Linked DNA regions of Homo sapiens. The protein of the gene in region 1 interacts with the protein of each later gene in a pairwise test. Each region holds a gene or a part of one and is shown in the gene's direction. Other genes may lie near its edges.

What was found. The genes of interacting proteins can lie anywhere in the genome.
Region 2: the proteins of KRTAP19-7 (region 1) and BAHD1 interact in binary tests that used the Homo sapiens proteins (3 or more experiments, as listed by UniProt).

The regions. Positions count from the first base shown.
Region 1 is NC_000021.9:30,559,624-30,563,696, reverse strand, and holds KRTAP19-7 (keratin-associated protein 19-7), read left to right. Parts: upstream 1-2,382; 5' UTR 2,383-2,407; coding exon 2,408-2,599; 3' UTR 2,600-2,822; downstream 2,823-4,073. UniProt on the Homo sapiens protein: In the hair cortex, hair keratin intermediate filaments are embedded in an interfilamentous matrix, consisting of hair keratin-associated proteins (KRTAP), which are essential for the formation of a rigid and resistant hair shaft through their extensive disulfide bond cross-linking with abundant cysteine residues of hair keratins.
Region 2 is NC_000015.10:40,457,632-40,461,520, forward strand, and holds part of BAHD1 (bromo adjacent homology domain-containing 1 protein), read left to right. Parts: intron 1-819; coding exon of another isoform or gene 820-833; coding exon 834-2,265; intron 2,266-3,889.

The DNA.
Region 1 (4,073 bases):
TCATTTTGCAATTATTGGGGGTACAATAATGAGGAAAGAAAAGTCTACGTATCATGACCTCATTAAAGTGTCTGATGTCCACAGTCTATTGAGTTAAAAGACATGACGAGGGAATTGGGTCTTTTTCCTTACCTCATGAAGTTTCCGTTTGATGGTTTGATTGTTCCACAGTAGTTTCACAACCACAGAATAATAATGTTGACTTTTATGTGAATATATTTTGTAAAATACATGCTCATTAAAGAAAAAAATAAAGAATTGTTTTAAGAATAAGAGAAGTTCCTAATATTGATATTTGGTAAAATCTTAAAATGTGAATGCACTAGTATCTCAGAAAGATAAAAGACGGTAAAGCGTTTCTTCTCTACAGAAACCAGCGTGAGTCATAGGGTGACTGGGGTCAGTCTAGTCCTATCAGTGCCAAGTGGGAGGTCGTGTGAGCTGAGAATGAGAAGAGGCAGATGACTTGATGCTTCGTGGACAGGCAAAGTTCACATACGTGTTAGCTTCACTTTTAGGAATCAAATAAAGCAGAGGACCCTAGAAAATAATTCCTAGATTGGAGGTTCTGGGATCTTCTATTCCTGATAATAATATTTTCCCTACCAAGCAAATATATCTGGTTTTATCTGGATTGTGACAAGTGCTAAAGATAATAGTCTTTTTAAAAAATTACCTAAAATTATATTGAACCTACATTTTCTTAACTGAAGCAAATTCAAATACAGCAATTCTTTACCATTAATAATTCCCTTCAACTTGTAGTTTGCAAAGTTCCCTCAGGATGGAAATATGTTAAGTACCTAGTTATGTAGCACTTTTAATAAACTGGTAAAGGAAATAAGTTTAATCAGTATAAATGAAGTTCAAAAATAACCTGTATTCTTTGAGGTTCCTGGATAAAGAAAATGTGGCACATATATACCATGGAATACTCTGCAGCCATAAAAAAGGATGAGTTCATGTCCTTTGCAGGGACATGGATGAAGCTGGAACCACCATTCTCAGCAAACTAACACAAGAACAGAAAAGCAAACACCACATGTTCTCACTCATAAGTGGGAGTTAATCAATGAGAACACATGGACACAGGGAGGGGAACATCACACACCAGGGCCTGTCAGGGGGTGGGGGACTAGGGGAGGGACAGCATTAGGAGAAATACCTAACATAGACGATGGGTCGATGGGTGCAGCAAACCACCATGGCACATGTATACCTATGTAACAAACCTGCGCGTTTTGCACATTTACCTCAGTACTTAAAGTGTATATATACATACATACATGTATATATATATATATACATATATATATATATATAGCAGGAGTAGCTGAGCATATATGCTTACTGGTTTCATGTCATTTGCTTTTATTTATATTGATGATATGAAACAAAAATATAAGGCAGCTGGGCATTGTGGGAGAAGATATACCCTAACCTGCAATCTTTGATTTCAAATGCATCTGCTGAACTAAGGCCAATAATCAAAGTACTTAGGTTTTAGTCCTAATCTGCCACTAAGTTTCACTGTTGCGTAACTCTGCTTGTCTCTCTGAATCCATTTTTCTCATCAGTAACAAGAACACTGAAATAAATGATGACTCAAGTCTCTTTAATTCTATAATTATATGATCCTATGATAGTACGAAATTTAGAATCTAGACTAAGATTAAATTTGGGGAGAGGAAACTATTCATAAGGGATTGGCAGGGACTTTATGCACACTTTAATGGTATCTACTAAGCAGGCTGGCTCTACATGAAGCATAATATTTGAGAAATTCCTTTGACATTAATTTGTGACTCTTTTAAAAATTAAATATCATCATTCCACTATAAAATGTGGTTCCCAGCTGACTTTAAAAGCACATTGTATAAAGACATACATCATAGTTGATTGCCATTTCAGAGAACAATAATGTTTCAATTTTTGTGAATTCTTGGCAGAATAAAGATAACATCCTTGGCTTAGAAAAGGCTCAGCAGCCATGGACTGTCAAAGGAAAGAGTGCAATCAGAGGATAAATGTAATTGCATGAGATGCAATTTGAAGAATACTTGAAGCTATAGAGATTTGTTTATGGCATTTGAAACTCAGAAACTCATACATGTACAGTGAATATAAATGCAACTACATTTTATTAGAGGCAAAACACTTATCTAGAAATCCAAATAAAGCAGAAAATAAAACATGTTGTATAATTTCTAAATAACTAGCTTCATAAACAAGGAAGAGAGTGGGATGGGTGTTACAAAACAAGATAGTTGGCATAGTTTTCAGGTAACACGTTCTAAGGGATGACATTTAAAGGTGTGGCTTTCCACATGCATCAGAGTATATATAAATGTTCCTGTCCAGTCACAGTCACCAAACTGACCTACAACAGCTAACCACTTCTGACAACATGAGCTACTCCGGCAGCTACTATGGAGGCCTAGGCTACGGCTGTGGAGGATTCGGTGGCCTGGGCTATGGCTATAGCTGTGGATGTGGCAGCTTCCGCAGACTGGGCTATGGCTGTGGCTATGGAGGCTACAGATACAGCTGCTGCCACCCATCATGCTATGGGGGATACTGGTCTTCTGGATTCTATTGAATAAATACTTGAAATATAGTCTTCTGTGAGATTCCCAATTCTTCCAAGAAACTTTATTCCATAACCATATGGAATTCCATATTCCATAACAAAACAGCTGCTTGGATCACCTGCCTTTTGACAATAGTGTGAAGAAAACTTGATCAACTAGATATTGGCATTTGATTAGTGATGTTCTCCAGATATTCACTTTTTTATTGGCTGGAGAGCCATTATACTCTAAGAAAGATTGTCTTTCAATATCTGATATCTAACCATGAACTTTTTCTCATGTGGTAAATGTGTTTTGAGCCTCAAATTTTTATCACAATAAATGTGCTGTGATGCATTAATATAATCAACCATGGTGATATTTTCTTCTTATAGATAAAAAAATTACCAATACGTTATATGTCACGATTATTTCTTCACCCTCCTCCTCCTCGTCATTCTTCCTGTCCCTTAAACCTTCTTCCTCCCTTTCCATCCCTTTCCTCTCCTTTATCTTCTTTTCTTTATCCCCTTCTCCTTTGTCTTCTTCCTCCTCCTCATCTTTAACATTCTCAATATCTATATTTTCTTGTCCAGGCAAACAGGAATTCTACACCAAAAGGTTAAAGATGCTTCTGTGGTGATAAACTTCTGCTTAATCTTTTAATTCACTATTTCTTGGAGAATATCTTGATAATTTCAGAGCAATATAATAAGAAAAGGTTTTAGCTTGCACATAGATTATAACATTGGAGAACAACAGTGTGAAGGAATTATATCAAAGTATTAACAATAGCTTTATCTAGGAGATGGGAATATGGTGGCTGGTGTAATAGTTATTCTTTCTTCTTTTGTGTATGTTTAAAAAATTGCATAGAAAAAAAGCTATAAAACAAAGCTCGGGCCAATTTATTCCATCTTCAAATACATATTATCTGATTAAATTAAATGTATAAAAAGTGGACCCAAGAAGAAATACGAACCTGAATATTTCTATATGTCATAAAGAAGTGGAATTCATGAATCCATTTTGACAAATATGCAAATTTAAGACTAGATGATTTCACCAGTTAATTCTGAACAGTTTCTCTTTCAGAGAATAAGATAAGATAAAACACTAAGACTCTTCTGTACTTTTTTTTTAAGGTTAGCTGTATTAGTTCATTCTTCCATTTCTATAAAGAAATACCTGAGACTGGGTAATTTATAAAGAAAAGAAGTTTAATTGGCTCATGATTCCTCTGGCTGTACAGGAAGAATGATGCAGGCCATCTACTGGTCTCCAGGGAAGGCCTCAGGAAACTTACAATAATGGTGGAAGAGGAAGGGGAAGCAGGTGGAAGGTGAAGGGCAAACAAGAAATCATGGTGGAGCAGGAAGAAGAGAGAGAAAGTGGAGGTGCTATACACTTTTAAACAACCAGATCTCATGGGAACTCACTCACTGTCATGACAGCACCAAGGCGGACAGTGTTAAACCATAAGAAACTGCCCCCATGAGCTAA
Region 2 (3,889 bases), on another chromosome or scaffold:
CTTCTTGTCCTCCTGTGGCCAACCTCAGAAGCCCTGCGTTTGGGGAGGGGATTGTTAATGCCTTGGTTATACTTTTGGAAGAATAGATGGACTCCTGGCCGGGGGCAGTGGCTCACGCCTGTAATCCCAGCACTGTGGGAGGCCGAGGCGGGCAGATCACGAGGTCAGGAGATCGAGACCACCCTGGCTAACACGGTGAAACCCCCTCTCTACTAAAAATACAAAAGAAAATTTAGCGGGGCGTGGTGGCGGGCACCTGTAGTCCCAGCTACCCGAGAGGCTGAGGCAGGAGAATGGCGTGAACCTGGGAGGCGGAGCTTGCAGTGAGCCAAGATCTCACCAATGCACTCCAGCGAGACTCCGTCTCTCAAAAAAAGAAAAAAAGAAGAAAGAATAAATGGACTTCTACCACCCAGTCCCCCATCTTGGGAGGCTCTGTCTTCAGAGCCTCTTCCTATCCTGTGATGAATATCTAGTGAGAGAAGGACAGGGGGAGAGAACAAAGAGCTTTGCCACCAGCTCCTCCTATCCCCTGTCCCTGGGGTCTGCCTTGCTCCCTAGGCTCTTCAGGGGCTTAGTTCAGAGATACCCTAGGCTAAAAGGAAAGAGGAGGAACCAGTCCTTGCACAGCTGCTGGTAGCTTGATTCCACTGCCCCTTCACACTCTGGAAAGGGAGTCCCAGGAAAATCCATACTGGAGACAGGGTAGTTGTAGGCCAGGATCACTGCACCTGGGGCTGGGTAGGCTGCAGTGGGAGAGAAAGCAGGCAGGAGCAGGCCAGAGAGGGCTTCTCTCATTGCCCACCTTCTGTCCTGCAGGTTGGAAGTACTCCATGACACACACTCGGAGAAAGTCCCTTCCCATGCTGAGTTCGGGCCTCACTGGCCGCCGAGAGCCCCTGCAGATGGAAGACAGCAACATGGAGCAGGGGGTTGAGGGTGTGGAGCCAGGCATGCCCGAGAGCCCAGGTCACCTCACAGGGCGCCGCAAGAATTACCCACTTCGTAAGCGCCCATTGGTTCCTGAGAAGCCCAAGGCCTGCAAAGTGCTGCTGACTCGCCTGGAGAATGTGGCCGGTCCCCGGAGTGCAGATGAGGCTGATGAGCTACCGCCTGACCTGCCCAAGCCCCCCAGCCCGGCCCCATCCAGTGAAGACCCTGGCCTTGCCCAGCCCCGCAAGCGGCGCCTGGCCTCCCTCAATGCTGAAGCTCTCAATAACCTGCTGCTGGAGCGAGAGGACACCAGCAGCCTGGCAGGCACCCGCCGCAGTCGAGCAGGGGATCCCCACCGCAGCCGTGACCGTGATCGTGCTACTGGGGGCTGGTCCTCCTCCAAGAAGCGGCCCCGGCTGGGGGACCTTGGAGGAGGAAGTCGGGACCTGTCTCCAGAGCCAGCACCCGATGAAGGTCCCCGCCGAGATGGAGACCCAGCTCCCAAGAGACTGGCTAGCCTGAACGCAGCTGCTTTCCTAAAACTGAGCCAGGAGCGGGAGCTACCCCTGCGGCTGCCTCGTGCCCATGCAGAAGTAGATGGGCGCTCCACTGAGCCCCCAGCACCCAAGGCCCCGAGGCCAAAGTGGCCCAAGGTCAATGGCAAGAACTATCCCAAGGCTTGGCAGGGGGCCAGCTCTGGGGAGGCTGCAGGCCCACCTGGCTGGCAAGGCTGCCCTGATGAACCATGGCCATCTGCAACTCCTTGTGGGCCATCCGTCCAGCCATCTCATCAGCCCCTGAGCAAGGCTCTGGAGAGCCCTTTGGGGCTGCGCCCTCACCTGCCCCTGCTGATGGGTGGACAGGCGGCTCTGAAGCCGGAGCCTGGGCGCCCAGGCGAGGAGTCACCTGCCCCTAAGCAGGAACTGCATCAGCCCTCTTTCCCCACACCTCAGCTGTCGCCGCTGCCGATGCCTGGCAACCCCGCCGACTACAATGGCCTGTGTGTTGGGCCTGAGCTCACTGCACTAGGCAGCTTCTACCTGTACTGTGGCCAAGAGGGGCTGCAGTGTGGGGGCTACTCGCCCTGCCCCATGCTTCCTGAGGGCAAGCTGTCCCCAGTGGCTGCACCTCACGAGGAGGGGCTCCTCTTAGCTCCGAGCTCAGTGCCCTCAGGCACCCCTTTCCAGCACCCTCCCTGGGGCTCCTCTCGCTACTGCTCTAGCGAGGACACTGGAGTGAATGGCTACAGCATCTGCGGAGTGTTGCCCCTGTCTGTTACCCACGCTGGCACTACCTGTGGCGGCTGCCCATACAAAATGCCTTTTGCAGCAGGTGAGGCTTCCTGGGCCCAAGATGTACTGGGGAGTCTCGGAGACATGGCATCCCAGGAGGTTGGGCTGTTGATCTGAGCAGGGGTCTCCCTTGGGGTCTGGCTGCTAACTGGAAGGTAGGGGGCTTTCAGAAGTGAGAACTCCCGTAGTCTGTGCCCCAAGCCGAGGAGCATTCCCAAGAACAGGGCCCGTATAGCTCTGGACAGCCTTGCTCTGCCCAGGCTACCTTTGGAGATTCTTGGCCTGGCAGTTAGGTAGCATTGCAGTGGTACAGGCCACAGGAAGGCCTCTCTTCTCTCCTCATTGGGATACCCGTTCTTAGACTCTGAAGAGCAGGTTAGATATTGGAATTAGGACTTTTACCAAATTGTTCTCACGGCCCTTCTACCCTCCTTGAGGAAAGCTAGAATTCCCTAGTTTCTAGAAACCAGTACTCTCTGCATGCTGGCCAAGTTCAGCATTCATGGGAAAGGTGGTAGGTACCAGGCTCAGTAGGTGGTACCTACTGCACAGGGCAGCTTTGCCCTGGCTATAGAGGCATTGAAAGAGAAGTGCCCAGACTGAGCATCACTTTGCTGGGTGTGGATAGAGAGGGTGCACCATGAGAACAGACAAGCAGAGTTCCCTGACATGGATGGAATGCGATCAGGGCCCACAGCTTTGGTGTCTGCCTGCCTGACAAGACCCAGACACCTGAGAGGCCCATGCTCCGGCTGTTGAGACACTCCCAGAATCATTTCTCTTCCCTAAACTGGCAGAGGTATCCTCACCTGCCTCTTCAGGCTCCCTGCCTGCCTCCTGGGTGGAAATGAGACATGCTGGCCAGCAGGTCTGCCCTGCTGCTGGGGAGGTGAGGGCTGGACCTTCCAGATCTCCCTTCCCCTGACATCCTTTCTTGTAGGGGTCTATAAAACAACTTTATAGACCAGTTGGCCCTGGCCAGACTGGTTGTTTCAGGTTGTGGCTTGAGTTAGAGTTCTTATGACATGAGAACAGGCTGCTGCTTGGGGTTTTCCTTCTTTTTTTGTGCCATTCCCCAAGTCTAGACCCTTATCCCCTCTCCCTAATAATAAGGACACCAGTAAACACCATGTACCAGGCACTGTTCTGAGTGCTTTACATATGGGAGGCTGCTTGGCATGTAATTGAGCACAGACTCCGAAGCCAGACTGCCTGGAGTGAAATGTTCTCCCCCACTTTCCTAGCCATGTGACTATGGGCGAGTCAGTAACTGCTCTGTGTCTCAGTTTTCTTAACTATAAAATGGGTGTAATGATACCTATCTCACAGGGTTTTTGTAAGGATGAAATGAGTTAATGTGTTCGTAAGAAAACCAGCCAGTTGCTCTGAGGGGCAGAGTGACTTGCCTGAAGTCACATGGCTAGTAAGTGGCAGAACCCAGGCTGATTCTAGAACCCCTATTCCCAAGCATTATGAAAGCCTTAGAAAATTAATATCAGGGCCAGGCGCGGTGGCTCATGCCTGTAATCCTAGCACTTTGGGAGGCTGAGGCGGGCAGATTGCCTGAGCTCAGTAGGTTGAGACCAGCCTGTCTAACATGGTGAAACCCTATCTCTACTAAACATACAAAAAAATTAGCTGGGTGTGGTGATGGGCACCTGTAA